3 separate regions of the Homo sapiens genome follow, and regions 1 and 3 are each linked to region 2. Evidence: fine-mapped expression QTL. A gene starts in region 2. Each other region holds a variant in brackets. All regions are shown on one strand. Distances are between the middles of the regions.

Region 1 (7,325 bases), 22 kb before region 2:
TGTGATAGGCATTTCTTTTTTTTTCTTTTCTTTTCTTTTGAGACAGAGTCTCGCTCTTTTTGCCCAGGCTGGAGTGCTCACTGAAACCTCTGCCTCCCAGGTTCAAGCAATTTTTCTGCCTCAGCCTCCCAAGTAGATGGGATTACAGGCGTCTGCCACCATGCCCGGCTAATTTTTTTGTATTTTTAGTAGAGATGGGGTTTCACCATGTTGGTCTGGCTGGTCTCAAACTCCTGACCTCAGGTGATCCACCTGCCTCAGCCTCCCAAAGTGCTGGGATTACAGGCACGAGCCACTGAGCCTGGCCTGCAACAGGCATTTCAACAAACGGAACACAGATCCCAATAAAATCTTGCTGGAAAAAAATGGCAAACACAAAGTAAAAAGTTTTTGTATCCTGAGAGATTTTACTGCAAGAAAACTCAAGGTTCAAAAAAAAGGAAATGAAGTCTGAACTGTCTGAAACACTGAAAATATGTCTTAGAGCAACAATTAGTCTTTCAAACCAGGTTAGTTGAATTAGAATGCACTGGAGTCAGCAACAGACTCTTAATAGTAAAAAAGTTCAAATAACATAAAATATAGCCCTGTCTTATTTCATTAGTTTAAAAGAAAATGGAAACCGTAATACTTTTAATGTTTCCCTCAAATGAAATGACCACAAGAGAGACATGTGTACAATCACAAGAAAATAAAACTTAAGCTTTGAAATGTCAAATTTGGGTATTTAAAAAGTTCATCACCTTTCACTATGAAGATGCTGTAGCAACACCATCTACCTCATTACAGAGTTATCCAGTATACATGCACCAACTTGGCTTCTGCTCTGTCCCCTTACTGCTCTTATCAGACCTGTGCTCACAGCAGGCATGACTTTCCACTTACAATCCCTGTGCTCCAATCTTATTAATAGCTCCACTGCCCCACCTCCCCCACCCAATCTGCTCCCACCACCACACTCCCATCAGCATACTTCAACCTGGAATTGCCCTTGAGTACCTAGCTCTGGCTGCAATAGATCTTCTCAATCTATGCCTTCTCCACGCCTACAACTACAGATTAATTAAAATATGCCATTATTGGCTGGGCGCAGTGGCTCATGCCTGTAATCCCAGCACTTTGGGAGGCCGAGGCGGGCGGATCACAAGGTCAAGAATTCAAGACCAGCCTGGCCAAGATGGTGAATCCCCGTCTCTACTAAAAATACAAAAAAATTAGCCGGGCGTGGTGGTGGGCACCTGTAATCCCAGCTACTCAGGAGGCTGAGGCAGAGAATTGCTTAAATCCGGGAGGCAGAGGTTGCAGTGAGCCAAGATGGCGCCATTGCACTCCAGCCTGGGTGACAGAGAGAGACTCTGTCAAAAAAAAAAAAAAAGCCATTATTCCAGTGAATACATTAGCTTACTGATGGGGGTCAGTGCCCCCACTCTTCCTCCATTGTCTAATCCATCTTTCATGACTTGTTTTTCCCCCATATCCCTTTACCTCTCAATCTTCAGTTCTTTGCACATGATATGCCCCTGCCTTAGCAAAGTGGAGAGTTCCTATCCATCCGTTCTTGAAGATTCAAATTACACATCACCTCCTCTAAAAGACTTCCCTAATCAACCCAGGGAGAGGTGTCATCTCCTCTGTGCGCCTTTTAAGAACCCTGTAGGTGTATTATTCCATTATTTGACACATTCCAAATTATGACACATTTTAATTGTCTATATCTGACTTTATAACCACCCTCCCCAATACAAAAAATCCTTTTGGGCAGAAAACAGTATTCTCTATCCTTATATTATAACCATACACACAATGCCTGACAAACCAGTGTTGAGCAAATAAATGCTCTATGATTAACCGAATGAAGAGATGAAAGAAATGTATTGAACCTTATCTACTTAAGAACATAAAACATCCAATTCAAAGAAAATTTTTTTCTATAAACACGCATGTGCAAGTATCTTTTTTGTATAATGACTTCTTTTCCTCTGGGTAGATACCCAGTAGCAGGATTGATGGATTTGTGAAAATATGGAAATAGCCCAAAAACCCATCAATCAGTACGAGTGGATAAAGAAACTGTGGTGTATGTATACAATGGAGTACTACTCAGCCACAAAAAGGAATGCATTAATGGCATTTGCAGCAAGCTGGATGGGATTGGAGACTATTATTCTAAGTGAAGCAACTCAGGAATGGAAAACAAAACATCGTATGTTCTCACTCATAAGTGGGAGCTAAGTTACGAGGATGCAAAGGCATAAGAATGATACAATGGACTTTAGGGACTCGGGGAAAGGATGGGAAGGAGGTGAGGGATAAAAGACTACAAATTTGGTTCAGTGTATACTGCTCCAGTGATGGGTGCACCAAAATCTCACAAATAACCACTAAGGAACTTACTCATGTAACCAAATACCACCTATTCTCCAAAAACCTATGGAAATAAAAAAAAATTAATATAAAAATTTTTGAAAACTTGAAATAAAATACTGTCCCAAAATTATATTTCTTAGAGAAAAGATACATACAAGAAGACAAAAGGAAGTGAAAAGTAAACTAAAGATTAGCTCCACCTGAAAAGTGAAACTGCCATTTTTTTTCCAATGGCAGAAGTTATTATTCTGTTTTTCCTTTCCTGGAAAATAGCAATTACAGTAGTTACCTCATAGGTAAGGTTGTGAGAATTAAATGGAGATAAATAGGAAAAGTGGAACAAAAATAACACAATTGGCAGATGTTACTGCTACCTCTTTGCTAATCACAAAGAGAAACATGTACTATAACACACTCCAATAGAAAACAAGAATTAGAATATATGCCATAAGTTTTGACAAAAGACAAAGAAAAAAAGCTACATTTCTTGAAGTTCTAAAAATCTAAAATGATATAATTGTTTCATAAAATTTATCAGAATTCCAAAACTAATGAATTTTAAAATAGAAAAATTCAACACAACTCTTTAGACAAAGGTAATTCGGGGCTCACAAAGAATTACATATGCTTTAATATCAGGAATATAAACATTGTTAAGATTTTGCTTGAATTTTATGTCACAACCAGCAAAATAAATAACTGTAGTATAAAAAATACGGTATTTCCAACACAAATTTCCTACTATTTTCTGTGTTAGGAACCATAAGGAATTATTCACTAAAAAGTTAAAAACAAAAAGATACTAAAGTTGTACACACCTTAATATAATTGGCATTATATGACCTCTCATTCCAAATCTGCAAAACAAAAAGTCAAAAAAGTCTGAATTGAAAGTTACAAAATGTCAGAAAGCAGATTATCGTTACGATACCATTTCTCTCATCATCTTTCATATTATCTGATACGCCATTTTTTAACTTTATGGGATATCCTGCCATAGAATTTATAGATAGTTATAAGATAGCACAACTTTTTAAAAATTAAAATATTATTTTTAAAAACCTTAAAATATTTAGTGGGTATTTTTCAAAAAGTAATTTATTCCAAAGATTTTCAACAATGGAATATTCATTAATTCATTCAACACATACTGACAGTACAATGTGTGCCAGAAACTATACTAGGCATTGGAGAACTAATAGACAGGGAAACTGTTACAACAATTATGACAAGATCCCTGAAAGCCAAGTATTAATATGTATACTGTATAGAAGGCATATTTTTAAGCATACACAGAGAATCACAGTAATACACTAGTCACAAAAGCAACTCTGAATGAGGATGGATAAAAGGAACATATATACATCTATTAGGTTTAGAGTCATGAAGCATGGGGTTTTAGAATTGAAAGAACTTCCATAACTCCACAGTTGAGAAAACTGTTAATAACAAGAGACGATTCTAGAATCCAGGTGCAGGTCTTTTTACTCCAATGATACAGGAAAGAGTTTATCAATGAACCTCCTCATCATAGCATTTGTTATCATGAGTCTAAACAAGATGTGAATCACCCATTACTTGTGACTGTACCATAAGAGAAAGCTATTAGACCAAACCTACATTTAGTCTCACTACAGGTTATAAATGTCCTGACATTTAAGAAAGTTCTCCGGCCAGGCGTGGTGGCTCATTCCTGTAATCCCAGCACTTTGGGAGGCCGAGGCGGGCGGATCACGAGGTCAGGAGTTTGAGACCAGCCTGGCCAACATAGTGAAACCCCGTCTCTAATAAAAAGAAAAAAAAACTAGCTGGGTGTGGTGGCGGGTGCCTGTAATCCCAGCTACTTGAGGCAGGAGAATCACTTGAACCCAGGAGGCAGAGGTTGCAGTGAGCCAAGATCACAACACTGCACTCCAATCCGGGTGACAGTG[T/TA]AAAAAAAAAAGGAAAGTTCTCAAATATAAACTAATTTTTCAGTCATAATTTGGAAAAGGATAGCAAAAACTAGTATATTCTTTCTTCTGACTTCCTCCAGCCCTTGGCTCATCCTCATGCCCTGTATCATCATGTAGTATTACAGTTTATATGTTCCAGCATCTACTTCTCTTACTGAACACAAGAGCTTATTAATCTTAGTAGCCCTCAAATATTACAGTCACAGTTCCTGCAACACAGTAGGAACTCAATAATTGTTTGCTGATAATCTAAGTCATGATTGCATGAAAATGTTTAAGTATTAGTTTTAACTGATGGTATATTAATAAGCAAATGATTATGGAGACCCACTATGTGTGTGTTAAGGCCCTGTGGGGTACGATGCAGCCTGGGGCATGCCTCCACCCAGCCAAGAGACAAGCTGGACATGATATCATTTTTCATACTTTTCAAATCCTTAAAAGGTGTTAACTAACAGTTTGTGACAGGTGAACGCAGATTTCAGCCAGCCTGCCAAATCTGGCCCATCATCTGTAATTTTACAACTTGAGAGCTAAAAGTGTTTTTAGTTTTAAATAGTTACATTTTAAATGGCTATATATTTACCTCAAGATCCTCAATATTGCCTTTTGGCCCACAAACCCAAAACTATTTATGCTCTGGCCCTTTAATAAAAAGTTTGCCAATCTTTGGCTTAAGACAACAAGAGGATAAAATGAGACTAACCCCCCATAAGCTGTATAGGAAACACAACACTGTTGTAGGAACCAGAGAAAGCAGGGAAAGCTTTGAAGGAGAATTTGAGTTGGGTTGATACAAAAAAAAAAAAAAAAAACCCAGCTCAGAGGAAGGAGGTATACACTCAACACAGTTTTCAAAAGTGGGAACACTGGGATGGGCAAAGGGGAGCAATTAAAGGTCACAGGTACTTAGTTTGTGTTATTATCAGACACCATTAGAACAAATTAGCCTCATGGCATAAAATGGTTAGTCAAAAAGTACCACAGAATCAAATTATTTTCTAAATTACAAACAAATGTCCAAAACTGAATCATATTTTAAATATATTACTAACTCCAATATAATCAATGTCCAAATCATGGTAACGCTTGGCGCCCACAATCCAGGTCACGACATAATAGGCAGTCAGCTGAAGATTGACATAAGGCCAGTCGAAACCTTTTCCCAGCCATCCAGGGAATGACCATGGCAACCCTGCAGAGAGAAGGGAGGAGGCAAAGGTAGAGGAGGTATAACGGTGCTGGCGCTATTGAAAATAAAACAAATTTTTTTTAAGAAAAGCATTCAACTAGCAAAAAACCAATACAGATCTGACTAAAGGAAAGTTTATATACCATATAAAAATTATTGAAATCCTTTCCAATCTATAGACACTATAATTCCTTATTGATCCCTAGAGTCAGGTCCCATAATTTCAAATGTTCTTTCCAAGAAGAAGAAAAATAACAAATACAAACACCTCTCTCCAAGACCCTTACCAATAGAAAGAAATGTACCATATGTTTTAACTTAACATGTCCACTCACTGTTGGAATGTTCAATATTCAACTTCTGTTCTTTGAGGTCAAATCAAAGAATTCTAAAAGGCTTATGCCAAACTACTCTTGAGTTATGTATAACACAAATTTATCATTCAATTGTACATCTTCTTACAATTTAGGGTCCTTAAAATATTAATCAGTCAGGCAATCTAATTTAGCAAAACTAGTTTGTTCTTATATCACTATAAATGACAATGACTCCATAGAGAAATATACCCTTGTTAAGTGATACACATCAAATAAGTCCATATTCTTCCAATAATCCTGATTATGTTTAAGTAAAAAAATAAGAAGAGTAGAAAAGTACTTATTATAATTCTAAATTTAACTTGCTACTAATATATTAAAATAGGCTCAATAGTTAAGTTCCTCAGCAATAAATATATTACCAAACTAGTTCACCACTGAAAAAAATAAAAATCAAAATGACAAAATGCTTATTTTCTAAACTCAGGAGGAACACCCAAGTGTATTACATAAGAAATGTGACATTAAAGTAATAGAATTCTTGAAAACAATGAAATGCTAAATGCAATCTGAAGGCCTACCAAGTCTTTGTTAGGACATGGTTTAGCATGCCATATTTTCTACATTTAAATGAGGTCTGACCTTGGAAGCAGTCTAGTGGATATGTGCTGAATTCAGTGATGCTTTTACTGCTCACAGCATTTCTGGAATCTCTTACAAAAGCCCATTTATAAAGAACATACTTACTCCTAATTTCTTTTAACTTAGAAAATATTACTTTTCATTAACCTGATTGTTGAGAAAATTATTTTTTAAATAACTAGAAATCAGGTCTTTAAAATGAATCATTAATTTCATTTAACTTAGTTTGAATTTAAGCCTGTTTCAAAAAATCAAATTCATTTCAAATGATGAAAGTATCCCATCACTCTTGATGTTTGAAATACTTCACAAGCTCTGTACACATTCTCACAGAACTGTGAAATGTACATAGTCCCATTTAAGCAACTAGCCAATGATCCTCCCAATAGAACCTAAGCCCCACAGGTGCAGGAATTGGGGACGGGATTGGCTTCCTGAGTCCCAGAACAGTAACCAGCACATTATTGAAGTTCAAAAACTAACTAATAAACAAAAAACACTTTTGTATGTACCTTTTCTAAAAATAGGGTTCACTACTACATGCAATATACAATTTTGTAACTAGTTAGGTGTACTACTGCATGTAATATACATTTTTGTGAACAGTGTTACCCTTTTATAAATACTGATGACAGATCTTGTGAAGGAAAGTAGTTTAGCATCATAGGAAACATGGAATTAGGTGCTAACACCGATTTTGCCATTTACTAACTGTCTATGACCTTAGGTCAGTGGCATAATCTTCCTAAGCTTCTACTGCTTCTTCCTGGAAAATGGAAAGAGTCATGCCTTACTCCACAGGTATTATAAGGATTCAACATAATATACAAGGGCAAAGAAAGGATCACCCCTGGC
Region 2 (7,331 bases):
AGTTCTAATGATTTTTTGGTAGAGCCTTTATGATTTCTTATATATAAAATTATGTCATTTGCAAACAATTTAACTTCTTTTTTAATTTGGATATCTTTTATTTCTTTCTCTTGCCTAATTGCTCTGGCTAGGACTTCCAGTACTATGTTAAATAGAAGTGGCAAGAGTGGACATTCTGTCTTGTTCTGATCTTAGAGGGAAAGCTTTCAATTTTTCACCATTTAATATGATGTGAGCTGTGGGTTTGTCGTGTATGGCCTTTATTATGTTGAGGTACATTCCTTCTACACCTAATTTGTTGAGAGTTCTTGTGAAAGGATGTTAAATTTTGTCAAATGCTTTTTATGCATGTATTGAGATGATCAAATGGTTTCTGTCCTTCATTCTGTTAAAGTGATGTATGGTGAAAGATCCTGTTAATGTGCTATTGTATTCAGTTTGCTAGTATTTTGTTGAGGATTTCTGTATCTTATGTTCATCAGGACATTCGCGTGTAACTTTTTATCTTGTAGTGTTCTTGTCTGGCTTTGCTATCTAGGTAATGCTGGCCTCATAAAATAAATTGAGAAGTATTCCCACTTCTCCAAATATTTTGGAAGAGTTTGAGAAGGATTGGTATGGCTTCTTTAAATGTTTGGTAGAATTCAGCAGTGACGACTTCCTGGGCTTTTCTTCGGTGGTAGAATTTTTATTACTAATCAGATTTCCTTACTTTTTATTACTCTGTTTAGACTTTCTGTTTTTTTTTTCATGTTTCAGTCTTGGTAAGTTGTATGTGCCTAGGAACTTCTCCGTTTCTTCTAGGCTATCAAATTTCCTCTTCCTATAAGGACAGCAGTCAGATTGGATTAGGGCCTATCCTTGGGGCTTTATTTTAATTTAATCACCTCTTTAAAGGCTCTATATCCAAATGCAGCCACATTCTGAAGTATTGAGGATTAGGGCTTCAGCATATGAATTTTGGGAAAGGACACAGTTCAGTTCATAACACCAGCTAAGATTTAGGGACTTTTCATGTTGCCAGGACTGGAAGGTGGCTTGACCCTTGGTTCTCAGAACTGCCCTCTATCAATGCTGGCATCCCCTGAGACACCCCCTTTCCCTTCTGGTCTTTGGTAGTTAGCCCAGGTAGTATTAACCTGAGTTGTCCCTCATCCGTGACACAAAGTGCCACACTGGGCCACTGAAAGTGCTGTGAGATGGGCTGAGGCTTCCCATCACTTCTTTGTGCCCCTCATTCTACTCCACCTGTGCTATACGGGCACAGAGGGACTTGATGAGTGTCTTAGTTTGTTTTGTGTTGCTATAAAATAATACGTGAGACTGGATAATTTATAAAGAAAAGAGGTTTATTTAGCTCATGATTCTGTAGGCCAAGAAATTCAAGGATGTGGTCCCAGCTTCTGGCAAGGGATTTCATGCTGCATCACAGCATGGCAAAGAAAGTCCAAAGGAAAGTGGACACATGCAAAGAGGGCCGGAGAGGTATCCAGGCTCTTATAATAGCCCACTCTCTCGAGAACTAATCCATTCCTGGGAGAACTAATCCAGAAAGAGAACTCGCTTACTACCTCAGAACAGCACCAAGCCATTAAGGAGGGATCTACCCCCATTGCCCAAACGTCTCCCACTGGGCCCCACTTCCCACTACTGCCACACTGGGAATCAAATCAACACCAGCTTTATAAAGACAAACAAACCATACCCAACTATGACAGTGAGGTCTCTCAGGTACATACTCCTGAGTCTCTCCTTGGAAATGAGGCACAGGTTCACTCTCCTCCCCAGATCACACAACTCATCTAGGGTGTTTGTCACCCACCCCTACCTCAGGGCTTGCTTGGAAGTGAGTACAGCAATCAGGATGCAGGGCCCCTTTCTCAAGCACTGACCACATCTAACTCTTGAACATACTTCCTCTCTCACAACGTTAAACCCAACCCCCGCCAAGCAGGACAATCTTTTTCAGTTTTGGGGGCTGGGAAGCTTTACTTTATTTCAGCACATATTCTCCCAAGCATAGTGTCTGTGCCTCAGTCTTTTCCAAGGCCTTGAATTTTTGAAAGTCAAAACTCACATTGTCTTCTTTTTTTCCCCCCCGCTTGTGCCAGAAATTTCCTTGAGGCAATAAATGCAAAATGGCTCACTGATTGTGTAAGGGTAGGGCTAGAGTGAAAAGAAATGTGGCTGGGAAAATATAGCATTATTTCAAAATCTTACCCTGCCATATTTAGTTGCCGCTTTAGCTAGTGAAATTACACCTAGCAGATAGTGTGGCCTCACAAAGGACCCCTTCATCAGTAGAACACACTCTTGCACTGTCTGCCCAATGGAGAAGTTGGAACCAGGTAGATCCACAATCTCCTCCCCATTACCCCATGAGTAGCCCAACTGGCCAGTGTTGGGTCCCCAGATTGTGACCACAGAAAACCAAATAATTGACTGGTCAGAAATGCCAACCCCGTTAAGGCAGTGTTCTGAATAACTACTAATTGTCTTTATCTCATTGTTATGTTGTTAAAATGTCACAGTGACTCAATGATTTAAAATTTCTAACCGTTCATTATAAAAGATAGCCCTATAGTTGAAAATACAGTATTGCCATATTTTCCATATTAAGAAGCAAATTTCTTAAAAGCTGGTAAATTTCTTATTGTGTAGAGTTGGCAAGGTTTTAGCATAGGTCAGCTCCAGCTTTTTCTCCTCTTTAATCAGAAGTGAAAGTTTGTGTTTCTTATGTTTCTTAATGATAATCTTTTTCTTTTGAAAAGCAAAATACATGAATATTAGATATGGACATGAAAATACCCTTTCCCTAAAAGCAGAAGTATAGTCTATTCAGATAAAGTAAGAGATCATCAGAGTAATGAAATACCTACGTAACAATGCACTTGTACCCCGAACTTAAAAAAAGATATATCATGTATAGAAACCACAGATAAGCAGATGTACGAAACCAAGCAAAAATGAGAACTTTGAATTACAGTCACAAGTAAACTGAAATCGTTACTTTTCATTTTTGTAAAACTTCAAGACATTTATTGTTAATTTTTTACTTTATACTTAATTTTTATTATTTCAGTAACAATATATTGATTTATAATTTACTATATGCTAAATTACTTTATAAACTATCCTGTGCTTTATAAATGTAAGGTATTAGTTTTATTATTCTCAAAGAAAGACCTACAACGGAAGTATTGAAAATCTTTACATTCCTGATATACCCTGATCAACTTCAATATGGAAAGCCTTGCTTATATACAGGCTAATCTTTTCTATCTCTGGGTAGGGAGAAAAAAACAACAAAAAAAAAACACCAGCAACAACCCTTAATGTCCTTTAACAAACACAGATTCAAAATGTCCTGATTACATCTTTAAAATTAAGTCAAATGTTTTCATCCCAAATAAATTCTGTTCTTTCAAATAATATTTTCCCTTCATTTCTAATAAAAGTTTATGAGGGCAAGATTCAAAAGTGATATTTCTGACTTTTTTATATATCAATAGTAAGAAAGTTATAGGAGCTAATTTCACTTCATATTAAACCACTTATAGATTTGGCATTAACTTTAACTTGCTAAAGTACAAGAGTTTTTATAATAACAATGTAAGTCTTAAATAAAATTTTCAAGTTTCATAAAATTATTTGTCTCAGCTAGTTAATTCAACTGGTTTTTAGCCATCTCTGTTTCCAAGAGGAGAGAATCAAAGGAGAAAATAGTTCTACAATCAAATACTATATATCTAATCCCATTAGTCTCTCAAAAAAAAAAAGAAAAGAAAGACGGTATGAGGTTGGCTACCTTAACCCCTGCCTTAAGCAGCACAATATCCATCATTAAACCCCTCAGCCTCAATTCTCCCTTTTCTGTTTTTGTCCCAGGAACTTTATCACCCTGAATCTACCTACAATATCCTCCCCTATCTCACACATCCAAATGGTTCATTCTATTTTATCTGTACCCCTCTTGAAGTACTTCTTCATTTTGCCATTGCATTACAATCATTATTAAACATGTCTTTCTCCTTTACTAGGTAAAAAAAGCTGCTTTTGGTTGATAGCCAGTTCGTATACATCTCCCCGCACACTGCTGGCATGATGAGTGAATGAATGAATGAATGAATGAATGAACAAAGAAATAAATAAAATATTTAACATATATTCCATTAAGTAAAGGGCATATAATATAATATCAGTACATACTTGTAATTAAGATGCAATGAGACAAGTGAGTTATAAAAATTACAGTACAGTAAACAATAAATAAAAACATCTTTAAAAGTATTTAAGAGACTTTTTTTGTTCAAACTTGGATAACGCACACCCTTCTCATTGAGATGCTGCTTCCTCATTGGTTTGTGCTGAAATATGAGTGCAATTTCCTGTCCCCTCAGCAGTGTTGGTTTCTCTTCTTGACTTGATGCAGGCACAGATTTATCAAGCTCCTCAGTCAACAAACACATCACCGGAAGAAATATGGGTAAGTATAAGATTAAAAAATAAAATAATATTTTAAAGTAGATAACATGCTTTGGCATAATTGTCAGTGATGTTCGCAACATTCTTCCTGGTTTAGGCTGTATAAATGTGGTAATGCAAAGCATGATAAGAGAGAAAGAAATGAGGAAGACACATGGTTTCCTCTACTTTGAGCAGTGGTAAAGGGCCAAACTTTAAATTTAGAACTAATTAGGCAAAACCATAGATATAGAAAAAGGGGGTTGTTCATACTTTATTTTCTTTTCAGGAAACAGTGCTTTGGCAAACTTCATTCAGTATTAGGAAGAAGCCTACCAGCCCCTGGCTTTAGAGCTATCTGGCACCAATCCCTCATCTGTACAATGGTCCAGTAAATACTTTTTATATCCATCAGAAAAAAATGTGATATTAGGAAAGAATATTTCCAGTATTAATAAATGTCAAGTAATAATTATTAGTTAATAAGTGACTACCACAGTGCCTGAAATATATAGTAGAGTCTTAATAAGTAACTATTAAACTGATAGATGAAAGCAAGCATTTTCTATAACACTGTAGGAAAATATTGTACTTTTGGTCATCGTCATCAATGATTTGTACTATTTTTAGATCTGTTCAAGAATAGATATACTTTAATATACTGTAGATTGTCTTTTTTGACATCTGGTAAAAATTAAAAAATTAAAAACTCACCAAAATTTCTCAGTGCTTGTTCTAAAAACAATTTTCTCAAAATTTGATTAAAGGAGGCAAAATAATATCTGAAAAGATATGTGAATACTGTAATAGGAATTATATACAGTATTCCACTAAAATCTCAGATCCACCCAAATTAAATGAACAACTATTATCTGCAGAGCCTAGTATTATACGTGAAGTGTTACCATATAAATTACACTCTGAGCACCTCCAGCTTTTCTGCTATGCTGTGGCTAGATGACTAAAGATGATTTCTTTTCAGAAAATGTAGGGGACAGCACAAAGATTGGTGCAGACTACCAATGTCATTAAAACAATATTACCAGCTAACGTACAGTGAATGCCTCCCATGTGCTAGGAACTTTGCTTCATATGTCGTTTCATTTAACCCTCACAACAATCTTAGAAACTGGGTACTAACTTACACATGTGAAAACTGGAACTTAGAGAGGTGAAGAAACACCAATGGGCCCAGAGTGCTGTTGAGAGGCATTCGAATTGTCTCCAGAGCCCACGCTCTTAACCACAAGCCTGTACTGCCTCTGCGTCACTACAAAGAAGAGGGCCTCTGCTTCATCAACCCATCCTGTCTTGTGGTTAAGTCAAGGCAGGAAATGCTTTTACAGCTAGAGAAATGTATTCCATTGAAAACTTTATAAACCTTTCTAAAAATCATTTTTTCATTTAATCTGTCATACCATTTTTAAAGAAAATGATGACTATCTATTGAGTAACACGGACAAAGGAGGAAGAGGCACATGCTGCCCATTACCCGACTTTCTCGGTCCTGGTCTTAAGGGGAGGATGTTTTCATGGTTCAGGTGTTCTTCCCAAGACACATGAGCCTGGTGTTGGACGTGTTGTGTGTGCATCAGAGTCCCATCCGCGGGGGCTGATTCAATCTTCCTGCATCGCAGACATTACCCTAGTGTCCTTTTCCTACTTCAGTTATATCCTTTAGAAGTTTCTTTAGTGGGGATTTTGGATGTAAATGTTCTGAGTGGTAGTTTACCTGAAAATGTCCTAATTCTTGCTCTGGTCCTTGAAATTTAGTTCTGTTGAGTATATAATTATAGGATGACATATATTTTCTTAGCAATTTGGAACTTTTAATCTTCTGCTGTCTGTTATCGCTGTTGAGAAGTCTTTTGTCCGTCTAAATTCCATCCTTCATAGGTAGTCCATCTTTCCTCTCTGGCTCTTTTTTCCTTAGTCTTTGGTGAACTGCAATTTTATTGCAATGTGTCTAAGTATAGGTTTCCATTTTTGTGTTTTTAATCCTATTTGGGATTTTCTAAGCTTCATAAATCTGCAGATTTCATGAGGATTGAAGATGCATGAGGATTCTTCATCCATCCTCAAGATTCCTTCATCAGTTCTAGAAAGCTCATCATCTTTGTGAATATTGCCTTTTCAACATTCTCTCTTTTCGATCTTTATGGAATTCCAATTATGTATATGCCACCCTTTTCACCTTTTCTCCATATCTCTTATATTTTCCCATGTCCTTAACATGCTGATAATTTTGTGTTATTTCTTTATCTCTATCTTGCAATATACAAATTTTCTCTTCAGCTGGATCTAATCAGTTGGTTACTCCCTGTGTTTATTTTTAAATTTAAATTATTATTATTTTTATTTTTAGAAAGTCTTTTTCAATCTTTCTAAAAATATGGCTTGTCATTTTTTAATCTCTTCCTCCTTACTCATGTGTTTAAATCCCTTCTTTTGTTTCTTTAAACATATTAAACATATTTTGTGTTTTTTATATATATATATATAAATTTTATCTCTAAAGTTTTGTGGATCTGGTTTACTTTGTTGTTTCTGCTCAATCTGACACGTAGTTGCTTATTATTCTCTCTGTGTGTATGTGTGTGTGTGTGTGTGTGTGTGTGTGTGAATAAGGTCATATTTGTTAGAACTCTATCTGTAGGATTCTTTGAGGCCTGAGTTAAAGAGGACTTGTTCAAGGGGGGATCTGTGTCAACTTCTTCCAGGAGCCTAGAATTTATTTTTTCATATATAGTTAACCTTTATTTTTGGTGAAGTTATTTTCATAATTAGGTAAATTATTTATTTATTGTTTTCTCTCAATTACATTTTATGTATGAGGATAGAAATAAGATCAGATTTCTTAAAAAGGC
Region 3 (7,331 bases), 620 kb before region 2:
GGTTGGTTTTAGATGAAGAGGGAAGAAATTAAGGTAGTGGTGTCATTAACATTGTGCATCTGGGTCATCATATCACATGGGAGGTGTTTATGCATACAACTTTAACACTTGTTACATAAACAGCCACAGTAAAAGCAACCAGCCTGAATATCCACCAACACTGGAATGGAGCTGACACAATAATTTTTTGCTTAGACCCATTCATCACAAATTAAGGAGAATTTCCCAATGGGTCGCAAAGTGTGTCAATAAGTGCTACTGATACCACAACCTTTCTCAAAGTGTCCAAATCATTCCAAAAAGTCAATGCCAATTTTATCTATTTCATATTAAGATTCGTTTATCCTTGGTTTGTTAATCTTCACCATGTGAAAGTTGTCTGGTTTTAGTTCAATGTATTATTTCTGCTTCTGCCTCCACCACCATCTCAATTTCCTTGGTGATTTGTGTGTGTAAGAGAGAGACAGAGGGAGTTTGCATATTAGCACTTCATTAGGTTAGAAAGTCGAATGCCTCTGGTCTTTCTCTAATGGATGGCATTTAAGATACATTAATACCTTAAATAGTCCTCCTACTTTGTTGGGCCAGCTAATTTTATTATTATTATTATTATTATTATTATTATTATTATTATTAGAGACAGAGTCTTGCTCTGTCATCCAGTCTGGAGTGCAGTGGCGTGATCTCAGGTCACTGCAACCTCCGCCTCCTAGGTTCAAGAGATTCTCCTGCCTCAGTCTCTTGAGTAGCTAGAACTACAGGTGTGCACCACCATACCTGGCTAATTTTTGTATTTTTAGTAGAGACGGGGTTTCACTATGTTGATCAGGCTGGTCTCTAACTCCTGACCTCAGGCGATCCACCTGCTTCAGCCTCCCAAACTCCTGGGATTACAAGTGTGAGCTACCATGCCCAGCCTAATTTTATAATTAAAAGATGAATTCCTCAACATGTCTCACCTATGGCTTGGAAAAATTCAATTGAGTCATATCAGCTGGAGACAAAATCACCTTTGAAATTTGTTGGCAACTCCATCAGCCTTTGTGACCATAAAGAATTTTGTTTCTGGACATGTCTCGTTAGTGTTCTTTGGCGGCTGCTATGGACATAACTACTCGTGGCAGAATAGTGGCATTCCTTTGATGGCCTCTCATTTAGGTCCCTAATACAGGGTTGAAACATGTTGCCCATTTCCTGTGAAATTCAGGAGCCAAGTGTTTTCTTAATTTTCCTTAATAGGCCATTCAACTTTTCCACTATGAGGGCTACTTCATGTAACTGTGAATGACTCATTGACTATCCATGCTACTTGCCCATTCGGCATAATTTTTGCCCTGCCTTGAGTTTTCATCTCTGAATTCCAGTGTCAGAGGTTCCATATCTTGCACACAGTTTTTCACACTCTTGATTTTACTCTGGCCAGTCACAGCTGAGGAAAATATGCAGTTTCCCTCTCTTACTGTAACTCCCTCACAATGAGAAAACAGATTTTGCTGCTTTTAAAGGTACTGTATAATCCAATGGTTCCCTGAAATCAGTCCTCTGGGAATTTGGCCTTCAGTTTTATTTAAAAATCTCAGTAAATTATCACATGGGACTCTTCACTACTTCATTTAAAAAAAATTTCACATTCACAAATGGAAGTCCTTTTCTTGACAATTGGAGATGGTGCATATTTTATGCCGGAAAGACCAGATATCTCTTTGTTCTCTTCTTGACATGCCTGTGAAAGGGTCTTAGGATAGCACTATCTCCAGTTGTCCCAGGCAATTTTAATTAGATTTTAGGCCTCCAGAAATGCACTCTCTGCATTTGTTCTTTTGGAAGTCTCTCTTTTACTGTTTTGACAGATCATACACCCAAATTGGTATTGATGAATCACTTAGTGCTTTCTTTAGTTCTTTCTCCAAAACTGTTTTTCTATTACTTAGAAACTATTTCCAATTATTGAACATATAGACAGTCATTATCTAAAACCTGGAAAAGTATGAGCTTCTGAGAAATCGGATCCCTGTGCTTAATACAGCCATCCAGATTTCCTGAAATTCAAGATACTGTACTAATCGGCCTAGTTCTTGCTTTACTTAGAACTGTCCAGTATTAGGGTTAAAAGCACAGGCTTTGCCATTAACCTCCTTACTGTTGTAAGGACACAGCTTCTGTAGCCATAGTTTTTGTGTTCTCTATGTAAATCTCTAAATTAACAAGAAGTTTTTCTTAAAGTTTTATTTTACTGGTGTAAAGTACACTTTTTAAATAACAGAAGGCCCAGCAGTTCACTAGCAGTATCTTAGTATAATGTACACATTTGCATGATTTGGCCCCTTCATGAAGGTACCAATTCTATTTTAATTGATTGAGACAAACTGAACAACCTCTTTAAACAATCCAGAGTGTGAACAACCCTATATTGCTGTTGGAAGTTCTATTTATATGATCGTAGGTACATGTTCTATTAGGCCTCAGTTACAGAACGTCATCAATAGGGCTACATAAATGTCCTGGAAGATCATAATGAGCCCTACAACTTATCTACACAATTTGATTGTTGCTGTAACCTTGATTATCCAGGAAAAGGTACATTGTGTTTTTCTGCAAAGTGAAAGAAAATTATCTCTTATCAGTGTTCTGGTGAAAAACATAATAGAGCTAGAATTCAGCTTCTGGGAACAGCAGATTATTTAATTTGGCCAAACTTTTTACTGAGATTAAGTAGAAAATCTAGAAATAAATAAAAATAAAATTAAAAAATATAAATATGTAATATAGGTATATGTAAGTACACATATATATCAAGTCTCAGATTATATCTATAATGTTTTATATTAAGTGCATTCAATCAAAAATAACTGGACATACAAGGAAATGCAAACACAAGACAAAGTGAGCAGAATATATATGCAGAAATACTAGCAAAAGAGATAGTAGTGTTTTAATTATGAGCTTTATATTTCTTTTTATGTAAATATTTAAGTTCCTAATTTGTATCATGCTTCTGTATATATAATATTTTTGAAGTAACAATATTATTTTTACTTCCACTATGATTACTAAAGATATTTTAAGCTTTCTTTTTGGCTCTTTTTTCCTTAGAATATGTCCTACTTTGTATATGCAATCTTTCCATAAAGTCACTCACAATAGTCTCTCTCTCTGCCACTCCTAGTATGAGACTTATGAAGACAATTCTTCAAAAACACTCTGAATGGACTTGCAGTTGTTAAGTTTTCTAGAAAATCTGCAGAAACAATTCAGTCATTCAGCAGAGAACTCTTTGCAAATAAAAAGACAAAACTCTGGGTTAACAAATATTGAGGGAAATAGAATTGGCCATGGTTTGTATGACATATAGTCTCATATAAAACACAATCAAGGGAATCATATGGGGCTTCTATTACAAGATGAGATTTGTGTGTGATCAGTTTCCCATTAATATTATTTCAGAAAGAATCACTTTAAAAGTCCAAGTATCTTATATGGAAAATACGTCTGCTTAGTTCAAATAATGCCAGGTGCTGACATTTTCAGCAGTCTCAATCCCAGAAAACTAGTTAATTCTTGAAAGATACAATAATAAATATGTATTAAATTTACCTTCCTTGACTGAGTAAGCCACAGCAGTTAAATACAACCTCATGACTCTCAAAAACCTTCAAAAATTTTCCAAGTGCTAAAACAGCAAGATTCTAAATGATGCCCAAATCAATTTGTGATATTTCAAAAATTACAATAAACTGTATCTGTTCATGGAAAGAATCCTCTATTTCTGATTGAACAACCTACTCTTGACACAATTAGGTTCATTTTTTACATTGCATTTAAGTTTTAGAAAAAGATGTTTTCTTCTATTTGAGTTTTATTTATTTTATAATTATATAAAACATTTACATTGTACTGTTTGGCCCAGTCCTTTCCTTACTTAGGTCTTTTCAATCTTATGGTTAAAAGCATGATCCAGCTGGGTGCAGTGGCTCAGACTGTAAATCCCAGCACTTTGAGAGGCCAAGGTGGGAAGATCGCTTGAGTCCAGGAGTTTGAGACCAGCCTGGACAACATAGAGTAGACCTCATCTCTACAAAAAAAAAAATTAGCTGGGCATGGTAGTACATGCAAAGAAATTGCATTATTTTATGTGCCCACCAGCAATGATAGTTCCAATTGTTCCATATCCCTACCAATATTTGGTACTGCTAGTCTTTTTAATTTTGGCCATGCAAATTTGTGTGTAATAGTACTTTACAGCGGCTTAAACTTATATTTCTCTGATGAATAATGACGTAAAAAATCTCATGTGCTTGTTGAAGAA[T/C]CTTACATGTCATTCTATTAAGAGTTTACTCATACATTTTGCTCATTTTTAACATGCTTGAAAGAATTTAAAGTTGCTTTAAGGTAAATCTTCAAATCAGGCAAAGTCTTTCAATTTTGTAGGTCTTTCAAAAATTGTTTTCGCTAATCTAGGTTCTTTGTATTTCCACATAAAATTTAGAAATAGTTTGTTAATTTCTACCAAAAAAAGCCTATTAGGATTTTGATTGATTTTTAGTTAATTGAGAAAAATTGACAACCATATTTAGTCTTCCAATTCATACATATGGTAAATATTTTCATTTAAATCTTCTTTAATGTCTCACAGCAAAGTTTTGTAGTTTGCAGTGTACATGTTTTGCATATAATTTGTTAAACTTATCCATAAGTATCTATTCCTTTTTATGTTTTAAGAGGTTTTTATTCCTATTTATAAGCCACAAGGTGTTAGTCACATGTTTGAAGAAACATTTCCACCACTTTCCCTTTAGTCTCCTGCACAATCATCTGGGTAATCAATTTATTTTTCTCCTAATTCAAAAGGTAGGTTTTTGCCCCCAAGCTATTCATTCCAGTTACACGTTCAAAGTTATGGTTATACCATTTCAAATACTCTAATTGGCTTCCTATCTTTTTCCAGTTTAACTTTAGTTTTTACTATATAAATACTACTGTTTTACCAAAATATCAGATTCTACTTTTTCTACTCTTTTAAACAACTTTAAAGAACTCTACATTTACCAGAAAAGTCATCCCATGGGTCTCAGTACCACTTAATGCTATTTTTGACTATTGACAATTTGAATGTCAGTGAATCTTTACGCTATTGTATGGGTGATTTTCTGGATTATGCATGACTAGTTTGGAGCACTCCAGTTCTCTGTGTAAAATTCATTGAATCGCTAGGTTCTGGGAGCCTCCATTGTGCCCTGTGGTACCCTGTGCCAATGTTGGCTCTGTTTCTCTGACTTAGTATGGCTGGTAGGGGTTAGTAAGTTTATGTAATAACTGCTATCTGCTGAGGCATCCTGTTTGAGCAATTTTCTCCTGAAATCTAGGATAACTTTCACTATATCACAATAATATTATTTCACATAATAATTTCCTATTATTTTTCAGGACCTCATTTTCTGCTAATTCTTCTCAACTCTGTCAATGTATTGCCTTATTTTTGTTATTGTTGTTGTTGTTGTTGTTGTTCTTGTTGAATGGCTAAGGGTAATCAAATCTTCCCAAGAATTCTAACGGCATGGCTTCTATTACAATGTAGGTGGTTTCTGTACTGCCTAATATGTTAACTCTCATCTCTATGTGAAATGCTTCTGGAACCATTGTAAGCATAATTTCCTTCATCAGAAATGATTTCCCAGGGATTCTGCCACTACTCAAGTTTTAAGAAAGTTTTCTGCCTCTTGATAAGTCCCTCCCATCCTGGCTTTCTTCTTTTAACCTTTATTTGACTTCTACAATATTTTTTCCAACCCTTTGCCATTACACAGTGGTTCTAGCTATGGGTAAGTCTTTTTGGCCTGCAAGCAAGTATATACTTCAGTAGTGGAGGCATCTCCTTCTTTGGTAAGCTCTATAAGTACATTTTCTCATTCTTGATGAGTCTAATTGATGTTAAAATTTATTATCATTTTTTATCTATATTCTGAGAAATGAGCTCTTCTCTTTCTTTTCCTTTTCTCTTCCTTTCTTTGCTTTTATTCTTTTCTTTTCTTTTTGTTCCTAACTGTATTCTTTCCATGTGGTTTGTACCTGTAGTCTGGTGCAAGACTTTTCTCCCTCACTCGGCAGTTTCACCTCTCTGTATCATGTGGCATGTCCTGATTAATTTCTGTATTTTCCATAGGCAGCATTTTTTTGGATGGTTGACACTGTTAAAATCCTTAGGTAATGAATCAACTGGTTGGGGCTTAAAAGGATATCATCCTTCTAGCTTCTTATCACCTGGGTATTTAGAGAGTTATTTTCTATTCTTAACTATTTTCCCCCTTTCTATATTTGAAAACCCAGTTCTACTCTTTTTCTATCCTTTTGTCTCACATTTTAAACAAAGATGTACCTTCAGCAGCCAAGGTAATCAATATCCCCTAAATGTCAGAACAACTTGCTACTTGCCACTTTTCTTTTAACTTGTCTACCATTGAGTATGACAGAATCGTTTTTTAATATCCATTTAATAATCATTTTTCCTTTATGTAACACATGAATTTAGACAGAGATATGGTGACAAGACCACAGGGCCTCTGTGAGGCTCAATGTGCAGTCCTTCTCCCCAAAGACTCAAATTTAAATAGTCTGGAGGATGCCTAACCATTACTATGTTTTAAAGTCCCACAATGTTTTTAGCCATAAGTCTGGATGGAGGAAATTCATAATTGCAGAGCTCTGTAGATGGTAAGTCTGCTGCTGACTAGGACATATCTCTGCTAGGAGCACAGCAATGTTTCTAGCCAAGCACCAAAACAAACACACCTTATTTCTATAATGACTCCCATACTGATAAACAAACCCCTCGGTGTGGAGCTTGATAACAATATTTAAAGAGTTTAATTGACCTCCCTAGCATGTTTTTCTTTTAGTGTGCTTTGGGTTCTCAAACACGAATGGGCTTAAGACACAGTTTAAACTTTATAACATATGTATTCACTACACTGTTTACTCTCCAGTATTTTTAAAGTAAATGACTACCCAAGTGATATAACAAGATTCAGATTAAAATGATGAGAAACACCACTCCCCCATCTTGGAGAAAAACAAAGAGGTTCCCTAAGATAATTGAATAATTGTTTTTTCTTCATGTGTAATGATTAAAAAATGGGTACTTCAATGCTTAGTCCCTATCAAAATCTGTTGCTTCTGTATCTTTCATAAACTAGAGTGCTGCACAGTTGGTTGAACATAATTTTTGTCAAGGCTGTCTTTTTCAAGTATCTTTATCTCTGCTTTTATATTAATGCAGTGTTTTTAAACATCTGCACCAGTGTCTTTTCTTAAAATACTTTTCTATAATTGAATTT

Direction of the effects. Alleles are on the strand shown, and positions count from the first base shown. SD is a standard deviation of normalised expression in the study named. Not every link is listed here.
For the expression in liver of the gene that starts at base 4,399 in region 2, allele C in region 3 goes with a lower level than allele T (large effect, 1.2 SD a copy in GTEx).

Evidence for each region. PIP is the estimated chance that this variant, and not a neighbour inherited with it, causes the effect.
Region 1: its variant is fine-mapped to the expression of GPR65 in monocytes after LPS (Quach 2016, PIP 0.95).
Region 3: its variant is fine-mapped to the expression of GPR65 in liver (GTEx, PIP above 0.99).

Annotation. Positions count from the first base shown.
Region 1 is chr14:87,979,020-87,986,344 of GRCh38, forward strand. It overlaps GALC (galactosylceramidase), which reads right to left. Exons shown (of 17, transcript NM_000153.4): 5 at 5,375-5,514; 6 at 3,186-3,224. Among named protein-coding and RNA genes, the nearest start is that of GALC, 10 kb to the right of the region's middle. The variant T/TA (reference allele first, on the strand shown) is at 4,299.
Region 2 is chr14:88,000,737-88,008,067 of GRCh38, forward strand. GPR65 (G protein-coupled receptor 65) reads left to right here and starts at 4,399. Exons shown (of 2, transcript NM_003608.4): 1 at 4,399-4,486. RefSeq lists enhancers at 4,814-4,983, 5,784-5,843.
Region 3 is chr14:87,377,731-87,385,061 of GRCh38, forward strand. All of the region lies in intron 9 of LINC02296 (long intergenic non-protein coding RNA 2296), which reads right to left. Among named protein-coding and RNA genes, the nearest start is that of LINC02296, 230 kb to the right of the region's middle. The variant T/C (reference allele first, on the strand shown) is at 4,307.